Regions from separate parts of the Homo sapiens genome. Here region 1 is linked to region 2. The links come from fine-mapping of genetic effects on plasma protein levels. Region 2 holds a variant in brackets. A gene starts in the other region. All regions are shown on their forward strands.

Region 1 (10,928 bases), not on the chromosome of region 2:
AAAAGGGAGAGTGCTCCGCCGGGAGCGGGGAGCGAGTAGGGTGGCGTCTCCAGGGATTTAACCTCCTACCCTCAGTTCCATGACGCCACCCCCTCCCTCCAAAGACTGGGACAGCGCCTCCATTTTTGTTTTGGGGAGGAAGGGCAGGGGCTTGCGGATAGAAGGGGGTCAAAGGAACGGTGATTATCACCTGTGAGGGGAAAGGGGGTGCTGTCCTCCCTCCTTCCCTTTTCCTCAGCCTGCACCCCCTGCAATCCCCCACCTTTCGGGGTCTCCCCCTCCTTGTTGCTAAGGCCCGGACCGTCATCCCAGCAACAGCCTCAGTCATGTGACCGGCAATGGCGGCGCTGACGAGAGGTAGGTGAGCCCGGCGCCCCCCACACCCACCGCGCGCCCCCCGGGCCCCGCTCGCACCCCTCACGCGCCCCCCGCTCCCCCGGCGCCCCCTCCTCCACCTCCCCTCCCCGCGCGCGGCTCCGGGCTCCCCGCTCCGTGCCCGGCCGATCATCTTTCTAGCACCCTCCAGCCTTGGCCTCCATTCGGGGGTTCTGAGGGCTGCGATCGGGCCGACATGCACCCCCACCCGGCGGTGGGGATCCGGGGGCTTTGGCTACTGAGGGATGTGGGGAGTTGGTTCCGGGTCGGGTCTTGGAGGAGGCCGTGGGGGGAGGGCGGGAGCTGCTTCAGTGGATGCCCCCAGGGACCCTTGCCCATCCGGGCTGTGCCTCCCTCTGGCCTCTGTCTGGAGGGAGAGACTGGTTCCTTGTCCGGCCTGGGTTGCCACAGAGGAATCACAGACCCACCCTAAACTGGGGCCCCGCCTCCCTTTTCTGTGCCAGCAGGACTTGGACCTAGGACACCTAGGTCCTGGGTCCCCCGTGATGGGGAGAGAAGTGTTGCATCGCGGATAGACTGTATGGGCTGAGACTCTAGGGTTCCATTTTCACTTATGAATCTCGAGGTGCATCTGGCCTTGGGGGACGATGATGGAGGCATGAAGGGACAGCTGCTCCTTCTTGGATCAGTCAATAAATGGAGGTCACACTAATGGCCCTTCTTTCTGTTTGAGCTGCATTTGGAAGTGTTGTGGAGACAGCCCCGTAGCCCAATGCGACCAGACTCAGGGAAAACATCAGGCCCCTCCAGCTGAGCCCTTGTGTGAGCCCCGCCCCTCCCTAAATGCCAGACTTGGGAGCTGACAGACAGCACTGCCTGTGCTGGGTTTAAAAGGTGACAATGAGAACTTTGTTATTGCAGGGGCTGCTGCCACTTTGTTCACATCCTTAACAGACTTCAGCAGAAGGGACTGAGTTAGCTCTCAAGGAAGGCTCCCTGGCAATAGGGGCTGAATTATTTGGCAATGTGGAGCAGGCGAGGAGTTGGGGAGCATAGGAAATATTCCGGTCCATGTGATCTGAGGGAGGTGGCAAGAAGACCTCCACCTGTGTGGGCGTTTTCTTTCCTGACTTCTCTTATGTGTGCCCTAGGCTTTCTTGGGGGCCTCAGAGCTGGGGAAGAAAGGAGGAAGGTTAGCATGTTGAAGTTCCTTCTTGAGCAACTTGGGGAGAAGCTGATAATGGAATTCTGCAGAGAAGAGAGGAGATGGAAGGGGAGTTTTTATTTCTGGGTTGGCTGAGGGGAATGGTAACATTTGCCATCATAACTTTTTACCCTTCCCCCACTCCCAGTCCTGGTCAGCTGAGTGGAAATAGAAGGATTTCTGCTGCCATCATCTTCCATGGGCTTTCCAGGTATCTCCCCCGCAAGGGATCCTCAATTTTCACCCTTAAACTGGTTTCCTTCATTCCATGTTCCAAGTAATGCCATTCTTAGTAACCTATACCCAGGTTTCTGTCTCTGTTCCATGGGCTGCTGGGTTGGGGGCCATGGGAATTGGGAGAAGGGGTTTCTCACTTTCCTTCCATTTTTCCGCCCTACCAGGTCACACGACCTACAAGTAGGGAGCAGGGAAAGAAGAGTGAGCCTGCATGCCAATTCTAAGCTCTTCAGGATCAAAGTAAGCAAAAAGGAGGGGCAAAGAGTCTCCCTCCCCTTTAAACAGCCCATTTTTCCCCAAGAGGTGGGAGGGGCAAGTTGTTTCTATGATCTGGGAGAAATGACAGGAGAAACAAGACTGATACTTGGCTTAGATGATAATATAGCTCTGGAAACTTTTTTGCTCTTCAGTGGGTTTTGGGTTTGGAAGATAAGGGGAGACAGAATATGAATTTGGGTGAAGGGTTGGGGATTAGGCTTTGAGAAAACAGAGGTAATAGAGGGTTTGGAAGGAACCTGAAGTAGGAGGCACTGATACTTGTCAAATGGGGACCCCCCACCCTGAGTCCCTTTCACCCTGGGGGCAGTGTCGTTCGTCCTGTCCAGAATGGCAGCCTGTGGAGGCACCTGCAAGAACAAAGTGACTGTGTCCAAGCCCGTGTGGGACTTCCTGAGCAAAGAGACCCCAGCCCGGCTGGCCCGGCTTCGGGAGGAGCACCGTGTGTCCATCCTCATAGATGGCGAGACTTCTGACATCTATGTTCTCCAGCTTTCCCCACAGGGTCCTCCCCCGGCCCCTCCAAATGGGCTCTACCTAGCCCGGAAGGCTCTCAAGGGGCTGCTAAAAGAGGCAGAGAAAGAGCTGAAGAAAGCTCAGAGGCAGGGGGAGCTGATGGGCTGCCTGGCTCTGGGGGGTGGAGGGGAGCACCCTGAGATGCACCGCGCAGGCCCACCCCCTCTCCGAGCAGCCCCACTTCTGCCCCCAGGAGCTCGGGGGCTCCCCCCTCCTCCTCCCCCCCTGCCCCCACCTCTTCCTCCTCGCCTTCGGGAGGAGGCAGAAGAGCAGGAGAGCACCTGCCCCATCTGTCTGGGGGAGATCCAGAATGCCAAGACATTGGAGAAGTGCCGGCATTCATTCTGCGAGGGCTGCATCACCCGGGCTCTGCAGGTGAAAAAGGCCTGCCCCATGTGCGGCCGCTTCTATGGGCAGCTGGTGGGCAACCAGCCCCAGAATGGGCGGATGCTGGTCTCTAAGGACGCCACCCTCCTACTGCCCAGCTATGAGAAGTACGGCACCATTGTCATCCAGTACGTCTTCCCGCCCGGTGTCCAGGGGGTAAGAAGACCATGGCCTGCCCTTACCCTTTGGCTTTCCCCAAGCTCTGACCTAGGAAAACCGGGTGAGGGTGAGTGTGCTTGTTAGATGTGAGACAGTCTTGCTGTCTTCCACTGTGCCCTCCTACTCAGTGCCCTGGACCTAGGAGGTCCCCGTGAGGCCCAGCCTTTCCATCCCTGTGATCCCAAGGCACACGTGAAAATCAGATATGAGCTAGGAAAAAAAAAAGCAAATCAGATATGAGAGGAAGGAATTGCATATTATTTCCTTGATGAACACAAATACTGTGCTGACATCTTGGCAGAGGTAAATTCTGTGGAGGTGGTGGCTTAGGGGAAGGGAGGCACAATAGGAAGGGATCTGACCAACCCAACAGAGCCAGGAGCATCACTCTGTAAAAACAGGAGTAGTCAAGGCCTATAGGTGTCTTCCTGCTGGACAAAGAGTAATGTGCAATTCTGGCTGCAGAGGGGTGAAGAAGCTGCACAGAAGAGTGATGGAAAATGGAACAAGTTAGACAGTGGCAGAAACATTAGGAGTATTTTCAGGTGAAGGGAAGGCTGAAAGATAGATTATTCTGTCTTCACATTTTTGCTGAGTTGTCTGGAGTGTAGGGACCAGCTAACTTCCATCACTTCTGAGAATCCATTTGTTGCTGAATGGAGACTTGAGGGATTGAGACAGCAGAAAAAATCTCTTAACACATAAGGATTATGCTCTGAAACAGGCTCTTGCTGCCGAGGCCGTATAATCTCTCCTTCTGTGGAAAGCTGTCAGCCTGTTGCTGCCCCGTTCGCATTAGCTGGGGGTGCTCAGACAGAGACTAGCCTGGATGACCCTCCTCTGGCATCTGGGCCTTAGGATGCCTGGCTGCTCACTGCCCACTCTGCTTCACCTTCCTCCCAGGCTGAACACCCAAACCCAGGAGTTCGGTATCCTGGCACCACACGGGTGGCCTACCTCCCGGACTGCCCTGAGGGCAACAAGGTGCTGACCCTGTTCCGCAAGGCGTTTGACCAGCGTCTCACCTTCACTATCGGCACGTCCATGACCACAGGGAGACCGAATGTCATCACCTGGAACGACATCCACCACAAGACCAGCTGCACAGGGGGACCCCAGCTGTGCGACCCCTCTTCATTTCCTTTCCCTTGGCTCCTCCCCTTTGTTCCATTTCCACTGAGGGACCCACCAACCCCTCGCTCACGGAGCCTCCTAACTGGAGAGAACCACTTCCAAACTGTTCAGCCATCTCAGTTTCTCCTACATTCAACCTGGTCCTGGTGTGCCCAGCTTAGCCTACAAAAATAAGCAGAACTGGGCTAAATTATCTTGGATTTGGAGGTGTCCTCCCTTAGGGGAGGTGGGGAGGTGTCTGAGCCACCTAGAATGAGGGTGAGCATGGGGATAATAGCAAGTTCAAACAGCTAACAACCCTCACCCTCATTTCTCTTTGCTCCCAGGTTTGGGTACCCAGACCCCACCTACCTGACCCGGGTGCAAGAGGAGCTGAGAGCGAAGGGTATCACAGATGACTGAAGGACATCGCCTTTGCCAAGGCCCCTGCTGTCTGCCTCTACTAGGACCCAGCAGAAGCCTCTTTCTCCTCTCTGCCCCCTGCCCCCCACACCACACCTGTAGGGGACCTGTCTGACTGGGAAGGGAGTTCCGAGAGGGAGGGGGCAATCCCTTCCCCCATCCCCCACTGGCCAAGTGTTTCAATGCAGTGTGAGCCACTCCCTTCTGGCAGAGGCCGACCTCCAAGGCTCTGTTCTCCCCTCCCCGTGTACATATACTCCCGGTTTCCCTGCCCCTCCATTGCCCTTGGCTTTTTCTGGTATGTGCTGTGCTCCACGACCAAGCCGAGAAAGGACCTAGGGTGGGGAAGGGAGGGTCTCTTGATTCCTAACCGCCCCCACATACTGCTCCACCGCTGAACTTCGGGTGCCGGGGAGGAGAAATTGGGCTGATGTGAGCTCCCCGTCACCCGCCATGGAGCCGGCTGTGTGTGTTCATCAGATACAGTTCTCCCTTAACCTTGTCCTTTCTCTCCTGTGTCTCAGTCTCCGTCAGTCTGTCTTTCTCCGCTCTTCTCTGACCCCTGTGAGGAACCTCCTTACCCTGTTCTGGAATCGCTGCCAGACTGTAGCTTTTAATTTAATAAAAATAAAGTAAAATATGCAACTCTTTATGCCACACCCGTTCTTTTCCAGGGACTGGGTGGGGGTGGGGTGGGGAGAGGGACCTGCTGGAAAGGGGAGAGGGGATGATGGGGTGATCCCTGCGTGCACTCCCAGTCCCTCTGCCTCCTGAGGACCTGGGGAAACGGGATGCACCAGCGGGCTCTGTAGTAACACTGAGAAACCCTGGGTCACTTCGATGTTGGAATTAGTATTAAGAGGGTGTTTTTTTGTTGTTCAACTATGGTTGTAGAGAAAACAACCCTAGCCACTCTGCGAAGTTTGGCTGGGGTGGGAGTGGGGGCGGAGCCGGGCAGGGGGCGGATTCCGCAGCAGCAACTCCCCGGACGCGCGCAGGCCTCAAAGCCCCCCAGCTTCAGTGCCCCCTCGACCCTGAAACTTGGAGCAGGGTGGGGGTTCAGTATGAAGCCCCCGGACCGCCCCGCCCCTGGCCGCACTGACCGGATACTGGGGGTCATGGGGGGCATGCTGCGCGCATGCGCCCTCCCTGGGCAGGAGGGGGTAAGAATGGGGGCTCGCGGTGGGGTCGGGGGTCTTTCGGGGCCTTCAGGAGGGCTGCACCCACAACTCAACTTATCCGAAAACGAGTTCTGCGGGGCAGTCGCAGGAATACATGAATTCTATTACGAGGGCCATAGCCCCGTTCTGGGCGAGCCTTTTATAACAATGTGGGTTTTGACAGGTAGGAGAAGGGGAAGGGGGAGGTCAGGGCTGCCTAGGAGGGCAGGTTCCTTACAGTGGTTCTGTCCCCGCAGCCCCCAAGGAGAAGCCCTCTAGGGTTGGTGGGTACCGAGCCAGAGTCTGAACGTACGGAGGGAGATCACAGAAGGGATCGCGAACATGAGGTCCTCGCCGGGGCTCTGCAGCCCGGTAAGAAGCTGGGGGTGGGGTGGGGCACAGTTTGCTATCCTGCGCCAAGTGGCGAATTCAAAAATATTCTATTCTTATTAGCATAAAGTTCGCATCTAATTTGCATGAGACCCATTTAATCGCAGAGACCTCCACTCTTCTTGCCTTCGAGTCCAATGTGTGTCCCCCATCCCAGTCGATCCCGAGCCCTCGCAGGCAGAGTGTCCCCGCGCCCCACCCCTGGCCCCTCGCCAGCCCGGGCTCCAGGACTTCGCCTTAATTGGCGATTAGTCTTAGCTGGAGTCCCGGGGCCTGGAGGAAAGAAGGGTCCTGAGAGAGGGCGGCATCTGGGTTGTGTTCACCCACAAAAGACTCCCCATACACGCACCCCGTACCAGGGGGCCTCTGTCCACTCGGCCGGGGACAGCCCCAAACCCAGAACATCTTCGCACAGGCCAAGGCCCCATCCACTGAGTCCTCCTTCATCGCAGAGGCCAAGGGGAGACCTGGGCAGACCCTGCAGACAGGCTGAACCCCGACCCCAGCGCTCCGCAGAGCCCGGGATGCGAGAGGGAGGGGGACCCCGGGGCAGGGGAGCACGGGCTGGGGAGGGGAAAAAGCGCTGGGGACGTGGAGTGGGAACGTGGTGGTGTCTGGGGGAGGGGCGATCGGGGCGGGAACCCGGCGCAGGCAGGAGGGGGAACGCGATGGAGAGGGCGGAGCTGGGCCGCAGAGGCCCCGCCTCGTGGCGGCCCCGCGGCCAGGCCTGTTATTCAGCTCTCCGCTCCGCTGGGACCCGCACAGCGCCAGTGGCTCGGGGGTCGGCCCTCGCCTCCTCCCCGGCCCGGGCCTAGAGCCACCCCTAACCAGAGGCCGGAGACAGCTGGAGCGGCTGCCGCATCCCGGCCCAGCCTCCCCTACCATCCCTCCCCCTTCCACTGGACATCTGGACCCTAGGCCCCCGCACCGACAGGGTTCCGGAAACCCTCCCCGCCCAGCCCGGCGGCCGGGCCCCGCGCCTCTCTCTCTCTAGAGCCCCCAGCCCTCCTCAAGACTAGACTTCCGCCTACCCCTGGACACCTCCTCCCGGTCCCCTCCCTCCCCCCCTCCCACAGCCTGGACCGGGGTAGGAGGGAGGGGGGGTGTGCGCCCGGCGCCGTCCCCGCCCCGCCCCCCGTGATTCCCCCTGCATGGCCGGCCCGGGTGGGGGGCGCGGGGGGGCCCGGGCGCCATGCGGGGGGGGCACAAAGGGGGTCGCTGTGCCTGTCCCCGTGTGATCCGAAAAGTGCTGGCAAAATGCGGCTGCTGCTTCGCCCGGGGGGGACGTGGTGAGTGCCAGGTCGAGAGGGTCCAGTGTTGAGTGGGGGGCGGGCTGGGGGTTCAGGGCATCTGTTTGCCCTGGCCCTTGGGATTTAGGGTTGGAGACTGTATGTGTTTTCCAGGAAAGTGGTTTCTTAAGTGATCCCTAAGGTCCCTTCTGCCTCCAAATTTCTGTTAGTTCAAGTTAAGGAAATAGGGGAAGGGGCAGGGAACTCATCTCTTTCCCTTTGTCAAATGGGTTTGAGAAAAACCCACCCACAATCCCCTTAGGCCTAGAACCGATTATTTTCCTCAAACCTTTTGCTAAGAATCTACTTCTGAAGAGGGACAGGAGAATGGAGGAATGAGAATGAGGTGGTTCTACAAGGGGCTTTATAAGGAATCACAGCTCTCTGTCGCTGAGCACAGGCCAACGATAACCCTGATGGACCCTCCTCACTGGCCTCCTCTATTGGGTCTACGCATGTGTTGGGGAGGTGGGCTGCAGAAGTCTTTTCTTTTTATAGTGATTACTGCAATTGGTGGAGGAGGGGACTGGGAGTGGCAGATGGACCCAGCTCATCCTCCCCTCTTCCCAGAGAATGGTCTGTACCCATTGAAAGAGGGAGGGTTGTAGGAGAGCAGATGGCCACCCCCAGCTTCCAATGTCTGCCCAGATGGCTGCCCCCACCCCCATATCTATGCTATGCTCAGGATATGGGGAACCTCCACATGTAACTGGGGGTTCCAGGCCTGGAGAGCCAGGCGTTTACCTTACTGTGCTTTCTCCCAGGGGTGCCCTGGTGAAATTTTCTATCCTGGCCAACTCAAATGAGGATGGCAAGAGAGTGAGCCCTTGGAGAGAGAGGCTGAGCATCATGAAGAGAAGACCCTGGGAGTTCCCTGGGGACCCTGAGTCTGGAGCTGGGGCAAGGTCTATCACCTCCTCTCTTTTTCCTCCCATTAGAATCCTATTCCATTGCGGGCAGTGAGGGGAGTATATCGGCTTCTGCTGCCTCCGGTCTGGCTGCCCCCTCTGGCCCCAGCTCTGGCCTCAGCTCTGGCCCCTGTTCCCCAGGCCCCCCAGGGCCCGTCAGTGGCCTGAGGAGATGGTTGGATCATTCCAAACATTGTCTCAGTGTGGAAACTGAGGCAGACAGTGGTCAGGCAGGACCATATGAGGTGAGCAGGGAACGGCACCAAAGCATGTGGGACATCTATGAAGGACACTGGCAGAGAGGGCAAGTTGGGGCCACCCAGCTACTGTCCCCGACCTCTGACACTTGATTTCTGGCCCCCAGAACTGGATGTTGGAGCCAGCTCTAGCCACAGGAGAGGAGCTGCCGGAACTGACCTTGCTGACCACACTGTTGGAGGGCCCTGGAGATAAGACGCAGGTGTGAGGACAGGCTCTGGGGAGGCTCCTTTCACTCAAGGGGCATTCGTTTGCTCACCCTAGGATGTTCTTTCCTTCCAGCCACCTGAAGAGGAGACTTTGTCCCAAGCCCCTGAGAGTGAGGAGGAACAGAAGAAGAAGGCTCTGGAAAGGAGTATGTAAGTGTCCACAGCCCTTCCCTGCAGTTGCACAACTTCCAGAAGACTGTCCCTCACATTTTAGATGGAATTTCCTCCAAGGTTGGCTATGATGATAAAGGGGAGGAGGGAGGAACGGGCTGAACCAAGGATGAGCTCCGACGCTGAAGTGGGGGCCTCCTCCTGCTTTCATCCTAGGTATGTCCTGAGTGAACTGGTAGAAACAGAGAAAATGTACGTGGACGACTTGGGGCAGATTGTGGAGGTAGCTCCCTTTACCCCTTCCCAGCCCCTCCTGCCTGCTTTTCCATCTGCCCAGGGCTATTTTCAGGAGGTGCCTGGGCGCTCCTCTGTCCCACCTCTCAAGCCTCCCCACTCCTGGACCTTCCTACTCTGGGGGCAGGGCGGCTCCCACCAGGGAGGGGGAGGTGGAACACACCCTGGATTTGTGTACAGGAGCACCATTAAGGTGGGGAGAGGGCCACCACATGCTCATGACCCAACCTCAACTTTCCCACAGGGTTATATGGCCACCATGGCTGCTCAGGGGGTCCCCGAGAGTCTTCGAGGCCGTGACAGGATTGTGTTTGGGAATATCCAGCAAATCTATGAGTGGCACCGAGAGTGAGTGGTGGAACTCTGACAGCTAGGTGCTGGAGAGGGGCCCTCATCTGGTTGTCCTGTATCCTAACATCAGCCCATTGCGACTTAAGGAATGTTTGGAGAAGTTTTGTAGGGCACACTACCAGGGCAGACAGCTCGAAACTGCTGGGAGTGGGCGAGGTGGGGGTTGTGAAATGTATTTGACCTGCTGCTTCTCTACCAACCCCTCCAGCTATTTCTTGCAAGAGCTACAACGGTGTCTGAAAGATCCTGATTGGCTGGCTCAGCTATTCATCAAACACGTGAGGCTTGAGGGGGCAGGGCCTGGGGCGGGGCTTAGGAATGGGCTGGGATTCTCTGGAGATGCGTCCTCCCTCCTTGCCCACCCTGCTCTCTCTTAAACATTACCCCTGTTAGGAGCGCCGGCTGCATATGTATGTGGTGTACTGTCAGAATAAGCCCAAGTCAGAGCATGTGGTGTCAGAGTTTGGGGACAGCTACTTTGAGGTCAGTAGCTGAGATGTCTTGGTGGGAAGGAGGACAGAACTGGGGCTTTCCAGGCTGCATAACCACCCTGTCCCTGTCCCCAGGAGCTCCGGCAGCAGCTGGGGCACCGCCTGCAGCTGAACGACCTCCTCATCAAACCTGTGCAGCGGATCATGAAATACCAGCTGCTGCTCAAGGTCAGGACCCCCTTTTTCCTGGGGGCACAGCTGGCTGGCACAGCTGTTTCCTCATTCATCTCCCCAGGGTTCTTAGGGCTCCCCCAGACTTCCTGAGGGCCCTCACTGGTGTCCTCAGGGGAGGATGTGAGAGCTTCTAAGGGTGTCCTCGTGACCTCCCTGAGCATTTCTTCTCTCTGTCTTAGGATTTTCTCAAGTATTACAATAGAGCTGGGATGGATACTGCAGACCTAGAGGTGAGGACCCCAGATCTTCCAGGACACACCATGTGCTCCTTATCCTCCTAGTATCTCATGGGTTCCCCCAGCCCCTTGGGTGGTTTACAGCTGTCTGGTTTTTAGGGGGAGGCTGGTTGGGGTTGAGATACCGTCTGAAGAGGCAACTGGCCGAGGAGGCCTCTTTCCCAATAATGACTCTCTTCGCCCAACAATGCGCCTCCCTCACCTGTGTCCCAGCAAGCTGTGGAGGTCATGTGCTTTGTGCCCAAGCGCTGCAACGATATGATGACGCTGGGGAGATTGCGGGGATTTGAGGTACGGAGATAGGGCAAGAAACTGGAGGCCCGATGCTCTTCTGCCCCAGCCCTAGCATTCAGGAGGTCCTTATGGGGAGTTGTCTTCTCCTGGGGCTGACCCCATGGTTGGTTGG
Region 2 (16,281 bases):
AGACCAGCCAAGGGACACTCATCTGGGGATTTGAGAAATGAAGGACCGTGGGTTCCATGAGGTCTGTTGGGGTCCTGGCTAGCAACACTGTCTGGATGATTGAGCCCCAGGAGGAGGTGGCCTGGCCAGCAGGTGTGCAGTGAGGCCACTTCTAGACCACCCCTGTCCCATAGAGCTTCTAGTGATGATGGAAACCGTGTATATCTGCACTGCTCCAAACAGCAGCACTAGCCCTGTGTGGCTGTGGAGCACTTGAAATATGACTCATGCAACTGAGAAACTGAATTTGTAATTTTATTTAATTTAAATGTAAATAGCCACATGTTCCTTGTGGCTGCTGCACTGCACAGCAGCAGACTGTTGCGCTCTGGAATCCAGCCTCTCAGCCTTTACTCTCCAAAGCGGGATAGTATTCACATCAGAGCCAAACAATGCACAGACGTCAATAAACAGGCAGGGCATGGTGGCCCATGCCTGTAATCCCAACACTTTGGGAGGCTGAGGTGGGAGGGTCCCTTCAGCCCAGGAGTTCAAGACCAGCCAAGCAACATAATGAGAACCCATTTCCACAAAAAAAAATTTTTTTAATTAGCTGGGCATGGTGGTGTGCACCTGTAGTTCCAGCTACTTGGGAGGCTGAGGTGGGAGGATCACTTTGAGCCCAGGAGGTCAAGGCTGCAGTGAGTCGTGATTGCACCATGACATTCTAGCCTGGGTGATGGAGTGAGACCTTGTCTCAAAACAAACAGCTAAACCTACATCAATAAACATCTGTAAATATCAGGGTAGCGAATGAGGACTTGGTGTCTGGCAGTTAGGGACTGGCCTCTTATTCTGCCACATACTGGCTCTGTCATTTTGAGTGGATCACTATCCTCTTCACACCTCAGTTTCCTCATCCGTGAAATGAAGATAATAATAGTGCCTACTATCAAGACCATCCTGGCTAACACGGTGAAAACCCATCTCTACAAAACTACAATATGAAATACAAACAATTAGCCGGGCGTGGTGGCATGCACTTGTAGTCCCAGCTACTCAGGAGGCTGAGGCAGGAGAATCGCTTGAACCTGAGAGGTGGAGGTTGCAGTGAGCCATGATCGCACCACTGCACTCCATCCTGGGCAATAGAGCGAGACTTCATCTCAAAAAAAAAAAAATTGTGTCTACCTCAGAGGACTGTAAAGATGAAATGAAATAATAGACATATAAAGCTCAGAGCTCCAGAGGCTGGTACATAGTAAAGGTTTAATCCATGCAGATTGCACGTTCTCTTTGGGGACAGTACAGCTGGAGGGGAGTACTGTCAAATGAGGTCGCGTCGCTGAGGTGGAGACACATTGTGGCACATCTTGAATACCCGACTGGGTCCCAGCTTTAGCACTTGACATTGGCGGCCACCTAAGTTTTGGAGAGGGGTATGACAGAGGAGGTGGTGTCCCAGGGGGAAGGTCCGGAAACTCAGAGGAGTTTCCTGCTGTAATTTTCTTTGGTCACACAATGGTCATGGCCTCCTGATGTTTCCCACAAAGGGCCAGAGGCCCTTCAGTGCCAAGGAACGTGGACTCTCTCCTATCCCAGCACATACACGTGCTTCCAGTACCTTGTGATCTCTAGCCATAAGTTTCCACTCACCCATCTGCGAAATGGGAACAATGACGATGTTTGCGTCCTTTCTTTTTCTTTTCCTACAATGCAGGGAACTTTAAGACTATGTGACAGAAAGGTGCCACTGGAACCCAGGGCCTCGTGGGTTTCCTCCGTCTCTCGGGAGACCAGGATCCGAGTGAGAAAGTTTCCCACGTTCATTCTTGTTGGGCCCATTCTCAGGATGATGTTTCTCCTGTATTTTGCTACCCCAGCCCAAGCAAGACTAGTAGTTCAGCTTTGTGAATCCCCTCAGGAAGTCAGGAAAATAGATACTGTCTTTGGGCTTCCTCCAGGAGCTAAGAAAGGAGAGTTCCTGAAGAGCAGGAATTTAAGACAGGAATTGGCAGCCGAGGGCAAGGTTCCACCTCCTCCTCCCTTCTTCTGTGGGGTCTGTGATGAGAGCAGGGATGGGGAGGAAGAGGGTGGGTTTGCCTGCGCCTGGGGGGAGGGCAGCCATCAGGAAGGAGCAGCCACCTCTGCTGGGGTACTGGAGATAAAAACTCTGATATTGACTAGTGACCGTGGGGGCGATGGCCCAGGAGGGTCAGGGCTGCAGGGAACAGGGACACAAAAACGACAAAACATGCAACAGGTTATGTCCTTCTGGTCCAGGGCACGGCTGAGACAGGCAAGGGACTAGAGAGAGGAAGAGTGAATGTCAAGCCCCAGCACCCTCGCCTCCCTCCCATCCTCCCTTTTAGGGCCTCCCTTCTGGCAGATAGGGCAGGGAGAAGGGAAAGGAAAGGCCTGGGACACGTGGTTTGGATCACTGGCTGTGGCTCACAGTTCTGATGTGTGTGCAGTTTAGGGAAGGAGGCTGAAGACTTCTTGTTAATAAGGGTGGGGCATGAGTAAAATGGAGGATCTGCCCCCTCCCCTCCCAGCCCCTGATACAAATGAAGGATGATTGTACATGCATGGGGAATTCCACTTTGGGGGTATCCTTTTCTGGGCTGCTGCCAGACTCTGAAATGAGTAACAAAGGGATGGCCCAGGGTGACTCATCAGCTACCCTCTCGCAGGCCTAGCACGCTGGCGGGGTGTGCATTTCCTCTAGAGAAGCCCCTCCCTGCCAGTTTCAGAGGGATGGCCCTGAATTGGCTTTTCAGAGGTTCCTTCTCCTCCCTTCCAAAGCGAAGACCCACAGCTGCCTGAAAATGTGGCTCTCCGCCTTCTTGGGCTGCCTAGGACCTTGAGAGATGTGTCTCTCTGGGACAGGGTGTCAGGTCTGCTGGAGATTGTTAAAATGCTGTTGTCTCAGGAAGGGTGAAATTTAGCCAGGAGCAGTCTTCAGTAGCTTGGTCTGTTTATCGTGTATCTAGCTGTCAGCATGCAAAACAAAAGAACAAAAGGTCTAAAGAAATATAACGCAAAACAGGTACGATTTGAGATCCATCAGGGTTTCTCAACCTTGGCACAACTGACTGGATAATTGTTCATTGTAGGGGGCTGTCCTGTGAATTATAGGATGTTTAGCTGCATCCTTGGCCTCTACCCACACACCCCCGTGTGCCACTCAAAAATGTCTGCAGACCTTGCCAAATGTCCCCTGGGGGCTTGGCGGAGTTGGGGGGTGCATGGAATGCCCCCAGTTGAGAACCACTGGCAGAGCAGGAGTGAAGGGGGAGGTACTGTGGGGGTCACTGGGCACACAGAATGCCATTTGGGGAGCCTGGTGCAAGGGAGTGGCCGGATGGGAGGTAGGAATAGCAGTGGTAATCAGTAGGTGAGTTGCTGAAGACAAACTAAATATTCTTTCCAGCATTGCTTCAATCTAATCCAGCCGCAAGTATGAGTAAATACTGTAGGAAAGGAGAAAACATTGCATGTACGGGGTCAGGGCAGCATTGCTGGGATATTTGAGCCTGTGGGAGGGGAGCTTCAAGCTTCCCACTAGCATTGGGAGGAACACAGCAAAGGAGGAGAAGGGCCCTCCCTGCTTCTTGGAGAATGGTTCCACTGGCAGGCCATTCCGTCTGCTCAGCTTCCTAGCTCAGGTGCCTTTCCAAACCACACATCAGCAGGGAGACAGTGGGAACATCTCAGGTCCAGGGTACCTTGGGAACTGCAGAGCAGCTGGGTGGCCTGACACTGGCATTTCTCAGTGTTGGCTCCATTCTCTTGCTGGCACCCCCAGGTGGGAGACTCTGTTAGCAGGTGTATCTTACTATCCCTGGCTCCCTGGTATGCGTTACAGTTCAGACTCCCAAGCACAAGCTCCCTGTTTTGTCACACCTGTATCTAGTGTGTAACAATCCACCCCAAAACAAATGGCTTGAAACACAAGGCATTTTGTTCTCTCTCATGGTTCTGAAGGATGACGGGGCTGAGCTGGGCAACTCTCTCCCGCTCTCTCAAGTGGTTGCAATCAGATGGGGATGGGGACAGAGTCATCTGTAGGCCCCCTCAACCACATGTCTGGTGCCCGGGCTGAAGGGTGGATCAGCAGGGGTCCAGGGATCTCTGTCTCTTTTGTGGTCTCCCCATCACAGGGACTTGAAGGTAGCTGAACATCTTACAGCAGCTCATGTCCCAAGAGAAAGACCTGGGAGCTGTCTCATCTTTACGACCTAGGCTTGGAAGTCACATAGCATCACTTCTGCCATATCCTATTCATTGAGATCAATGAAGGCTCACCCAGGATCAAAGAGAAGGGACATGGAGCCCACTTCTAGATGGAGAGTGGCAGGGTTCTGGAAGAACATGTGAAACCAGAAACATTGTTGCCACCATTTTTGGAAGACACCACGATTCCTCCCCTTTGAATAATGGCCTTCTTGTCCTTTACCAGTAATAACCCAAGCTGCTTGGACATTAGCTCTTCATGGTTTGCGGGGTGGGGAGGATGTGTTTTCTGGGACTTCCCAAGGTACACAGTAGTGAAGGACTTCACAAGCTGGGCTGATGTGCCAGCTTCAGGACTCCACTCACCCCCAAGCGTTCTGAGATGCCCATGGGGCTCAGGAGCCCTGACTTGCACAAGCCAGCAACTGCCTTTCTGCTTCCATTCAGCCAGCTTTACTGGGCATCTGTTATAGGAAGAGCAGTGGGCTGAGACTTCAGCAAAAAAGACAAAAGCAAAACACAATCCCTTCTCTATACAAGGTTCTTCCCTTTCTGTGTCCAACCAGTCCCTCCATTCTCGGTCCTTAACTCATCACCAAGCCGCCATTTTCTTCTATTCCCCCATTACTCCAAGGCGGGCCTCAGTTCTCACCTGGAGTCTGGCTCAGGATGCCTACAGGTGGCCCCAGAATTGTAATGGCTTGACATGCAATTTTTCAGCTTTACAATGGCATGAAAGCAATACACATTTAGTAGAAACTGTACTTGAAGTACCCATACAACCATTCTGTTTTTCACTTTCAGTACAGTATTCAATAAATTACATTGAGTTGTTCAGCATTTTATTTTAAAACAGGCTTTGCCTCCTTAGATAATTTTGCCCAACTGTAGGCTACTGTAAGTGTTCTGAGCACAATTAAGGTAGGCTAGGCTAAGCTATGGTGTTAGGCAGTGTCAACAAAATAGTCAAATTCTGTGAAATATTTAAAGAGTTTATTCTGAGCCAAATATGAGTGACCAAAGCCTGTGACAAAGCCCAAGGAGGTCCTGAGAACCTGTGCCCAAGGTGGTTGGTTTACAGCTTGGTTTTATACATTTTAGGAGGACATAAGTTACAGGCAGACATCAATCCAGAAAGGCGGGACAACTTGAAGTGGATGGGGAAGGCACAGGGGCTGGAGGGGGCTCCGAGTCACAGGTGGATTCAGAGATTTTTCTGATTGGCAGTTAATTGAAAGCATTAAGTTACTATCTAAAGACCTGGAATCAAGGCCGGGTGCGGTGGCTCACACCTGTAATTCCAGCACTTTGGGAGGCCAAGGCGGGTGGATCACCTGAGGTCAGGAGTTCGAGCCTGGCCTGGCCAACATGGTGAAACCTCGCCTCTACTAAAAATGCAAAAATTAACTGGGCATGGCGGTGTATGCCTGTAGTCCCAGCTACTCAGAGGCTGAGGCAGGAGAATCGCTTGAACCCAGAAAGTGAAGGTTGCAGTGAGCCAGGATTGCACCACTGCACTCCAGCCTAGGAGACAAGAGCAAGACTCGCTCCCAAAAAACCAAAAAAAAAAAAAAAAAAAAAAAAACGAAAACCTGAAATCAGTTGAAAAGTGTGCCTGGGTTGAGATAAGAAGTTGTTAGAGACCAAGGTTTTTATTATGTAGATGAAGTCTCACAGAGGGCCACTCTCAAAGGCAATAGATGGCAAATGTTTTCTATTCAGACCTTTAAAAGGTGCTACTAGATGCTCAGCTAATCTCTTCAGGATCAGAAAAAGACCTGAAGGGAAGGTGATTCTCTACATCAAGCTTGTCCAACCCTCGTGCTGCCCAGGATGGCTTTGAATGTGGCCCAACACAAATTTGTGAACTTTCTCAAAATATTATGAGATTTTTTTTTTTTTTAGCTCATCATCTATCATTAGTGTCAGTGTATTTTATGTGTGGCCCAAGACAATTCTTCTTCTTCCAGTGTGGCCCAGGGAAGCCAAAAGATTGGACACCCCTGCTATAGAATGTAGATTTTCCCACAAGAGACAGCTTTCAGAGACATTTCAAAATCTGTCAGAAAAATATATTTTGGGCTAAAATACTTTGATTTCTTTCAGGGCCTGCTATCTGTCATGTGATGCTCTACTAGAGTGTGGTTGGAATTTGGTATCTTATTGCTAGGAAGAGTCTGTTTTGTGAGTCTTAAGATCTCTGTTTTCAGTTAAGGCTGGTCAGCTGTGCCTGAATTCCTAAAGGAGGAGGATAAAATGAGGCATGACGGACCTCCCTTCCCATCGTGGCCTGAACTTGTTTTTCAGGTTTACCTTGGAATCCCCTTGACTAAGGGGGCACCCATTCAGTTAGTTAAGGGGCTTAGACTTTGATTTTTAGTTTACAGTAGGCTGAGGTGTATTAAATGCATTTTCGACTTGCAATATTTTCAACTTCTGATGGATTTGTTCAGATGTAACCCCGTTGTAAGTTAAGGAGCATGTATACTTGTATCTAATCCACTTTGGGCATTGCTGCCAGAAAACCTGTCCTCAGGGAGCTATGGAAGTAGTGGAGGCAAATTATTAAATGGATGGATTAATTCCAAGTTCAGATCATGTTGGGAGTCAGCTGGGAGTCAGTGTGAGGATCTGGGAGGGGAACAGTAAGGGGTTAAGAGAGATACCCCAAAGGATGATTAAGGAGGGAGAGTTGGAAGGAAGGTTTCCCACAAAGAGGAAGCAGGGAGTGATTCATTCTGAAAAAGGCAAATATTTTATTATGCTTGGAGGGTCTGGTGCAGAAGGGGAAAGGAAGAGAAGGAAGTTTGGCTTAAATTCCCTTAGGAGCCAGTTCAGATTCCTAAGCTGGCCCGGACATCCAACCCAATCCGCCTAGCCCCAGCCCTCTCCAGTTCCCAATGCCCAGCCCCACAATGCCCGTCCTGCTGCCTGCCTGTTCTGGACTCTGCACTTGACCTTCCCTCTCCCTGAAAGTGCCCCTGCTCTTCCTCACCCAGCTCCCCGCTCTAAGCCTTCCTCGCCCACCCCAGCCCTCCTACAGTCCCAGTCTGCCCTGTTCAGACTCAAAGCCTCATGCTCACCACCATCATCCACAACCAGTTTCCACGTCTGTCTCCTGCCGGCTGTGAGCTCACTGCCTCAGAACCAGCGCCAGTCTCCTCTAGACTGAGTACAGGCCTGGCACGGAGCCAGGAATGCACCAACAAGGAGCCTGAGACTAGATTGGAGGGGAAAGAGACATGTCCTCCAGAGTTGACTTACGCGAGGACAGAGGTGTGCAGAGGCACGGCAAGCTGGGCCCCAGGCGAGAAGCATGGAGTGAGGGATGTGGAGGCAGCGGAAGGCATCTGGGAGTCTGGGCTGCCCCGTAGCAGCTCTGTGTTCTGCCTGCTCTTCCTCCAAGATGAGCTCCCTTGGCCAGTGTGTGAAACGTGTGTGTGAGTGTGTCACCGGTAAGCTGAGTTCTTTCCCTACTTGGTATCAGTTGCAAAGAAAGAACACTCAGTTGGAAAAAAAGGCAAGAGGGTTTTATTCCTGACCAGGAGAAAGAGAAGGAGGGGGCTCTTGCTCTAAAGACACCTTCACCCCGAGCCATGGAAACTGGGGAGTTGTAAGGAGATAGGTGTGGGGCAGGGAGGTGTGTAAGCAGGTGTGGGGTCACGGTGTGGGGGTGGAGACCTCTAGACGCTCAGGCCCAGGTCATAAACATGCCTCTCCATACAATGCAAGATGTGTTACCAGAAAGGGGTCCTGATCTAGAACTAAGAAAGGGTTCTTGGATCCCGCTCAAGAAAGAATTCAGGGTGAGTCCATACAGTAAAGTGAAAGCAAATTTATTATGAAAATAAAGGAATAAAAGAAAATCTACTTCATAGAGCAGCCCTGAGGGCTGATGATTGCCCATTTTTATGGTTATTTCTTGATTATATGCTAAACTTCTTGATTATATGCTAAACAAGGGGTGGATTATTCATGCCTCCTCTTTTTAGATCACGTAGGGTAACTTCCTGATGTTGCCATGGCATCTGTAAACTGTCATGGCTCTGGTGGGAGTGTAGCAGTGAGGACGAGCAGAGGTCACTCTTGTCACCATCTTGGTTTTGGTAGGTTTTGGCCGGCTTCTTTACTGCAACTGTTTTATCAGCAAGGTCTTTATGACCTGTATCTTGTGCCGACTTCCTATCTCATCCTGTGACTTAGAATGCCTTAACTGTCTGGGAATGCAGCCCAGTAGGTCTCAGCCTCATTTTACTCAGCTCTTATTCAAGATGGAGTTGCTCTAGTTCACA[C/G]GCCTCTGACACATGTTCAGAAATAATGGTGATTTTCTTCTACAGGTGGGGACGTTAGCATTATAATGACATGGTAAAGTTCTGAAGGTAACAAGGGGTTGCCTGTTCCAGTTTCTGCCAGTTTTGGGGGTCTTATCTCCCTCTGGTATCTGGGCAGAGGTCAAGAAGCTCTGGCACCATCAGGGGCCAGCTTGTTTCTTTAAGCAGCTGTGCCTACAAATAAAGGGACTAAAGAAAACAATAAGAAAACCCAGTTATTTCCTGGGGGTTGCTCTGGTATCCAGCGTGTTTTACTTCACCAAGCGCAATTCTTCCCAGTGCAGGCACTGGGTGTAACTGTGACAGCCAGCACCAACCTGCCCACACACCTCCTGTCCTGCAGGACTGTCAGCAGCCTCTGCACTATAGTGTGACAGAGCCACAGGTAGCTCAGGTGTGCCTCAGCCCAGCCTCTCCTGCACTCCCCCTCCCCTGGCTCCCCAACTCTGCCTCACTTCTGTTTGTGAAGGAAAGACAGCAGTAGCGGAAGGGAAAGAAGGAGAAAATGCAGAGCAAATATTATGCTTTCCTCTTGGAAAACCTCCAGGAGCTGCAAATATTAGTAATCCAGCTGCATCCCACCCCCCAGGATGGGCTGGGCCTGTCACACAGCCAACCTTCAGGATGCAGACACCCAGGCTGGGGAGCACAGCTCTGGAAATTTACTGACATGGCCCTGAATGAATTTATCTTTTCAGTAGAAGGCCCTGGAGTTTAAAGGAGTCATTCATAAGGTCTGTCTGGGAGTGCCTTGTCCTCAGAGGAGGGTCTGGGTGGGTTGGAGTGGAAGGAAGGGCTGGCTACCTGGTGTGCTCTCCGTGGGTCCCCAAGAAAGGCAGCCCTGCTGGGGGCAGTGAAGCCCTTATCCAGGTCACGTGAGTCTTGGAAGGGGAAGGCTGCTGTGCTTAACGATTCAAAAACACAAATCAAACCTCCTTTCCCAAACAAATTAGAAGGTGTGGAGGAAGCTTGAATTCAGAGAGGATTTCCCAGAGACCCATAGGCAAAAGTGGCTTAACTGAGCCCAGTGGGTGTCCCAGAATGGGCCAGAGAGAATGACACTAAAAAGTCTTTGAACAAATGAGCAAATGAATACAGGAATGCTCATCTGCCATAGGCACAAACGTGGTAAACGTTCCCTGAGAGAACTGACAGCCCAGGGGTGCAGGGAGAGAAACGGTCCCAACTGCAGACTGGGTCCCAACTGCAGACTCGGTCCCAACTGCAGACTCAGGAGGAGGGAGGCTGTTAAGGGGCCGTCTTTCCTTCTGTTATGTGAGGAGAAAAGCAGGGAAGGGACCTCAAGGCCAGCCTCTCCCAGGAGCTGCTGTTCTCAGCCCCGGGATCCAGCGCTACAGGGAAGTGCAGGGGAGGCTCCACAGTCCCGGCTGGAGACCCGGTCAGGCCTGGGTGGCCACTCTTCTTTGTAGTGGCCACCCTCGTGTCACCAGCAAATGCTTTTGTATCTACACCCTTCTCAGTGCTCCCCCTCTTTTAAAAAATGTACTTTCTTTTTTTAAAAAGAGTTGGGTCTTGCCTTGTCACCTATGCTGGAGTGCAGTGTTGCTGTCACAGCTCACTGCAAACTCCACCTCCTGGGCTCAACCCATCCTCCCACCTCAGCCTCCCAGGTAGCTGGGACCACAGGCACACACCAGGACACCTCGCCCAGTGCTCACTATTTACCTTTATTTCTTCCTTATTCGGACACCCCTTGCTTCCAAAGAAGAGTTTCGGAAGGCTCAAGACGGTGAGACAGACACCTTATGCACTGCTTCACTCTCCCCCGCAGCTCCCCTCCCTCCTCACTGACCCCCGGCCACAACCCTCTCTCCTTGCCCCTCACCAGCCGGCACCCTTGGCAACCCTGGCACCCTTTCGAGGACAAGACTGCCAAATGTGGCCAAGGTCTGGCACACCATGTACCAATCGAAACTCCACTTCCCTTGAGTTTCAGTTTCCACGCCTATAAAATTAGCAAATGAAAAGAGCAAACACTTGGAGACACTGTTCTCAATGCTTTGCATATTTTTTTCATTTAATTCTCAGTGCCATGAGACAGTCTATTATTATTAAACCTATGTTATATATGAGGAAACTGAGGCACAGAGGGAGTAGTTTCCCCAGGTCACAGTCAGGATTTGAACTCCATGGTCTGGCTCTAGTGTTTCCCAACCATTCGGGGTGGGAGTGGGAGAGAAACCAGACTGCTCTCCCTAGAAAACAGCATGTGTTTGCATGTGTGCCAAATTTGCACAAAACATTTGGGGTTCCAGGTCTCTAAAGCCCATCCATGGAACCCCGGTTTCCCTTCTCTCACGTGATCCTAACAACCTGCCGAGGATACACCTCATCATGATCCTCCTTTCACAGCTGAGAACACACCAGCTTAGAGAAATTAAGAAGTGTATCCAAGCTCACACAATCTTAAGTGGCCAGATCAGGACCAAAATCCAGGTCCTCTGGCTGGGCGCAGTGGCTCATGCATGTAATCCCAGCTCTTTGGGTGGCCAAGGCGGGTGGATCACCTGAGGTCAGGAGTTCAAGACCAGCTTGGCCAACATGGTGAAACCCCATCTCTACTAAAAATACAAAAATTAGCTGGGCATGGTGGTGGGCGCCTGTAATCCCAGCTACTCAGGAGGCTGAGGCAGGAGAATTGCTTGAACCCAGGAAGCAGAGGTTGCAGTGAGCTAAGATGGAGCCATTGCACTCCAGCCTGGGCAACAGAGTGAGACTCTATCTAAAAAAAAAAAAAAAAAAATTTGTGGTCTTCTAACCACAAATCTAGTGCCCCTCCCCAACCACCTCTGGTCCAGCCTCTTAGATCTATCTGGGATGTCTTTCCACCATACTCCTTTCTGGTTTGAGAACCACCTGAAGGCTCAACGTGGCTGTGGGGTGCTCCGTGGAGCCATTTGGCCTGTGCCCAGCAGCGAGGGGGACAGCCAGCAAAGGTACCCCCGCCCCTGCCAGCCTGCCACCTACTTGGGACGTTTCTTTTCTTTTTTTTTTTGAGACGGAGTCTCGATCTGTTGCCCAGGCTGGAGTGAAGTGACGTAATCTCAGCTCACTACAACCCCCACCTCCTGGATTCAAGTGATTCTCCTGCCTCAGCCTCCCTAGTAGCTGGGACTACAGGCGCATGCCACCATGCTCAGCTAATTTTTGTATCTTTAGTAGTGACGGGGTTTCACTATGTTGGCCAGGCTGGTCTTGAACTCCTGATCTCGTGATCTGCCCACCTTGGTCTCCCAAAGTGCTGAGATTACAGGGTGAGCCACCGCACCCAGCCTACTCGGGACCTTTCACCACCCAAGTGACCAGCACCCCTGCCCAGAGTGCCCCGGTTCTGTCCACTAGGCCAGCAGGGACCCCGCCTCTGGGATTGTTTGCTGGAGGGGTCCTGGACAACGTAGAAAGGGCAGCACACAGCCCTGGGCAGGAAGGGAGGCAGGAAGAGAGATCCTCAGGGGCTGGGCTGGAGGAGCAAAGCCAGCCAAAGGGGAGTGAGAGGGCAGTCAAGCGCCTAGAAGCCAAGGAACCCCAGGAGGATGGCATCGGGCAGGTGCCTCCTGGTGCCCAGAGACAAAAAGATGTGTGGGAAGGTGACAGAATCAAGCGGTAAGGTCAGTGCTTTGAGGGAGCAGGCAACCACCAGCCTCCAGTGACACTTGCCTTTCACAGGGATCCTGGAGGTCCCCATTTGGGAAGGTGGAAAATCTCAGTTCCAACCTAACCAAAAGATACAGGGGCAAGTTTGGCCTTGAAACCCTGGACCATCTGCCCTGGGTGATTTCCTTTCAACAGTGCTGGGTCCAGACTCCCAGAACCCTACCTCTCCCATCTTCCCCAGTAAGCCTGCTTTCAGTCCTTTTCACACGAGAGCATTTAAATCCAAGGGTTCCCTTCCCCCTGGGTATTTGCAGCCCATCTGATCTCTAAATGTAGAGTGAGAGCCACTTGTAGAAATTAAGTCTAGGCTGGTCACGGTGGCTCACGCCTGTAATCCCAATACTTCGGGAGGCTGAGTCAGGAGGATCACTTGAGACCAGGAGTTTGAGACTAGCCTGGGCAACATAGCAAGACACCTCTACAAAAAAAGTTTTTTAATTAGCTGGGCATGGTGGTATGTGCTTGTAATCCCAGCTACAAGGTGAGGTGGGAGGATCACTTGAGCCCGGGAGGTCAAGGCTGCAGTGAGCTGTGATTGCACCACTGCACTCTAGCCTGGGTGACAGAGTGAGAACCTGTCTCAAAAAAAAATAAAAATAAGAATAAAGAAATTAAGACCAGATGTAGGGGAGATTTGTGGAGGAAGGGACAGGAGGCCCCTAAAATCCCATCCTGTAGGCAGCCCCTGCTTGACTAAGCATAAGGCTCGTGGGGCACCCAGGTGGGCTTTTTCTGGAGAGGAAGCAAGGCAGAAAACCCCTCCATTTTCCATCCCCAGCCTCTCAGGTCTGTGCCAGTTGAGTGTCTTCCAGGACAGAAGCATGGCTGGGTATGGAGGCAGCCTGGATATAGGGATGGCCGGTCTGTCAAGCCCGTGGTCAGGACCTTCACGGGGCAGCTTAGGAACCTCCAGGCAGGGCCTCATCTGCTGCCGTTAGTAATAAACATGGCCAGCAACAGCCAGGGCCCTGCTAGCGGGAGATGTCATCGGTAGCCACCTTCCTTCTCTGCAGAGACACCGTCTGTCCCATGGATGAGCAGAGTCCCCTGGGGACCCAGCTCTGACACTTGTCCTTGCTCATGTCCAGGGTGCTGGACAGACTGAGGCAGGTGTCAGGCTCCTGGGATGAGAAAGGCAGATGAGAGATGGGAGTGGGAGCTTTACAGTGACTTAGGCAGAATTGCTTAGTATTTACATATGCCTTACCTCATTCCACAGAGAATTTAAGGCCTGACCAAAAGAGACGGGGCGGGGGGTGGGGGGGAGAGAATACAATAACACCATGTACTGTAAAGAAAAACAGTCAGTTCTAAAAGAAAAACAACCCAGAAAGAAGGGAATGTGTCAAAACCGGGAGAGGGGAAAAAAAAAGGCATGCATGCTTTCAAAAGCACCTTAGGGGCTACAGATGGGCCCTATACTTAGTGTTGACACCCAACAGCCATAAAAGAATCTCACTGTGCCCCCAGGGGAGCACAGGGAAGGTCTGATTCTAGATTTTTTCTGTGCCATTTATTTATCTATATCCTCATGCACAAGTTCTATACTGTTTTAATTGCTGTAGCTTTTTATGTGTTTAAACATCTAATAGAGGTAGACTTCCTTCTCTTAGATTTTTTTCTAGCTATGCTTCATATTTAATTTTTAAATAAACTTATCAGAATCAGCTAAGTTCAAAAACAATTTTTAATCTTATTACCTTTTTTTTTCTTTTTTGTGAGACGGGGTCTTGTTCTGTCACCCAGGCTGGAGTACAGTGGTACAATCATAGCTCACTGCAGCCTTGACCTCCCAGGTTCAAAGTGATTCTCCTGCCTCAGCCTCCCAAGTTGCTGGGACGATAGAAGCATGACACCACACCTGGCTAATTTTTTAAAAATAATTTTTATAGAGACAGGGTCTCACAGTATAGTGAGATTTCAGGGTGGTCTTGAAATCCTGAGGGCTCAAGAAATCCTCCAGCCCTGGCCTCCCAAGAGCTAGAATTACAGGCATGAGCCACCGTACCTAGCCCTATTGCTATTTTTATTAGCATTACATTAAGTTTATAGGCTAACTTAAGAGGACATGGCATTTTTATGATAATGAGTTTTTGCAGTCAAGAACGCAGGCCAGTTTTTTTTAAATGGGGTAAATGATTGTCCAAGCGCCTCCAGGCAGGCTCACGTGCACACTCTGGAGTCAGTGAAGAAGGTGAACAGCTGACAGGAGCAGCCTCCCAGTCAGAGAAGCCCTGCACACTGTTGCAAACAGACAGCTTGCATCTGGAGTCTTCTGTGATCCGAGGAGGAAGCGTGGCTGAGTCCTTCCCAGAAGAGGGTCTGGAGCTGTGAGTTGGGGACAATTGTCAGATTCTAGCAGTGAAAGTGGTTCATGTGCAGGTGCAACCTGCCCCGCAGTCACGGGACACAGCCACATGGAGCCGAGCCACGCTCTCAGAGAAGGAGCCAGGGAAGAAACACCCTAACTGCACTCCTCCCTTCTTCTGGCCCCCAGCAGCCATAGGCCCTGGGCCCCCGGTGAGATACCCATAGAGATCAGCTCCCAGGCAGCAGGATGGAGGGTGTAGACTGGACATGAAGAGGCAGCTGGAATGTATCGGGCACTCAGCTCCAGCTCACCACGATCCAGGCACTCAAGTTCCCAAGACAATAGTTTCTGCTCTCAGATAAATGGAATAATTAAGGATCAAAAGGTTATCAACAGGTAACCAAGCATAAACAGATTTTTTTTTTTTTTTTTTTTAGACAGAGTCTCACTCTGTGCCCCAGGCTGGAATGCAGTGGTGCAATCTGGGCTCACTGCAACCTCCACCTCCCAGGTTCAAGTGATTCTCATGCCTCAGCCTCTCCAGTAGCTGGGACTACAGGCGCGTGCCAACATGCCTGGCTAATTTTTGTATTTTTAGTAAAGATGGAGTTTCACCATGTTGGCCAGGCTAGTCTTGAACTCCTGACCTCATGTGATCTGCCCACCTCGGCCTCCCAAAGTGATGGGATTACAGGTGTGAGTCACCATGCCTGGCCCATAAGCAGATTTTGTACCTGAGCAGGAAGGCTAAGAGCTTGTAACAACTGAACATTCCCCCCGGAGAGGAAGGCAGGAGTTTTGCTTGTGCCAAGTGCACTGTTCAGACAGTCCTCTGAGGTACACCAAGGTCTGAGTAGCCATCCCACCCTCCCCTCTGCCAAAATTTTTGTGTGACTGGAGAGCAGAGCCCTCCTCCAAAAATAAAATGAGCACAAGGAAAATACTATTTGCAGATACATAATATTAAAACCATAGGTCTTTCTTTTTCTAGTCCCATCCATATGGCAACATTCCAGGAGAGGCCTCCGTCACTGGAAGGCACCCTCAGGGGCTTTCCTGGAGCTAAAAACAGTTTAAGCCAAAAGTTATTTGTAGCATCTGAGTTAAACTCTTCGTCTCACCCTTCTCGAGCTAGCTGGCTTATTTTATCCGGACCAGGATATAACAGCTCTAAACAGGCTTTGCCAGGAAGAGACGTCATGGACTTCAACCAGGGCACCTGACCAGGAAGAAATCACTGCAGGATGATCTGAAAGAGTTTTCATAAATTATTTTACGTAAGGTAGATTCTGACCTTGATGGGGACAGCCAAGGTTCTGGACCCTCAGCTGGGAAAGATGGGACTAAGTCTACAACTGCTGAGGTTGTAGAACAGGCTTCTTGTTGGGAGGAACCCTCTTGTGGACATGGGCCGTCGAGGTGGAGTGAGAGAACACCGTGCCACCTGGACGCTGAAACACCATTGAGTCACCTCTGTTTGAAATGCTTGTTCCCTGGTGCCGTAAAGAAATAGCACTTGAACATAAATTTAATTTACTCAGCAAGGACATTTTTATACTTTCTGTGAAAGGGTACACTCACCAGGAGTTTTGCCACGAGAGTACACCAAACAAAGGAGACAGGGTCATTTATAACCTGACGCGTCCACCCTACTGCTGTGTCCAGTTTCCATTGGCTGGAACAGGACCTCCCATTCTGTATTTGTCCCGATTGGCTAACAACTTAGAACTTTTTAAAAGAGGCAAAGGC

Alleles and levels. Alleles are on the strand shown, and positions count from the first base shown. The strength of an association depends on the size of the effect and on how common the allele is.
As copies of C replace G in region 2, the plasma level of the protein whose gene starts at base 323 in region 1 goes up (moderate association).

Evidence for each region. PIP is the chance, under the fine-mapping model, that this variant and not a neighbour inherited with it causes the effect. Protein levels are from antibody-based Olink assays in UK Biobank. Linkage for the fine-mapping came from a reference panel and not from the study's own genotypes, which makes the PIPs less certain.
Region 1: DTX3 starts here. The variant in region 2 is fine-mapped to the plasma level of the DTX3 protein (UK Biobank, PIP above 0.99).

What each region holds. Positions count from the first base shown.
Region 1 is chr12:57,604,502-57,615,429 of GRCh38, forward strand. DTX3 (deltex E3 ubiquitin ligase 3) reads left to right here and starts at 323. Exons shown (of 7, transcript NM_178502.4): 1 at 323-357; 2 at 1,070-1,230; 3 at 1,689-1,751; 4 at 1,942-2,017; 5 at 2,364-3,112; 6 at 4,019-4,236; 7 at 4,576-5,301. The coding sequence starts at 2,017. The coding sequence ends at 4,651. It overlaps ARHGEF25 (Rho guanine nucleotide exchange factor 25), which reads left to right and starts at 6,934. Exons shown (of 15, transcript NM_182947.4): 1 at 6,934-7,490; 2 at 8,429-8,643; 3 at 8,763-8,858; 4 at 8,939-9,015; 5 at 9,193-9,259; 6 at 9,515-9,618; 7 at 9,830-9,899; 8 at 10,015-10,104; 9 at 10,188-10,280; 10 at 10,466-10,516; 11 at 10,736-10,813. The coding sequence starts at 7,394. RefSeq lists enhancers at 1-204, 205-717 and a silencer at 6,827-7,346.
Region 2 is chr1:223,724,236-223,740,516 of GRCh38, forward strand. All of the region lies in intron 2 of CAPN2 (calpain 2), which reads left to right. LOC105373046 (a long non-coding RNA gene) reads right to left here. Exons shown (of 3, transcript XR_949169.3): 1 at 15,654-16,281; 2 at 14,751-14,880; 3 at 14,227-14,549. Among named protein-coding and RNA genes, the nearest start is that of CAPN2, 20 kb to the left of the region's middle. RefSeq lists enhancers at 3,256-3,916, 7,294-7,889, 9,664-10,524, 14,094-14,609. The variant C/G (reference allele first, on the strand shown) is at 8,508.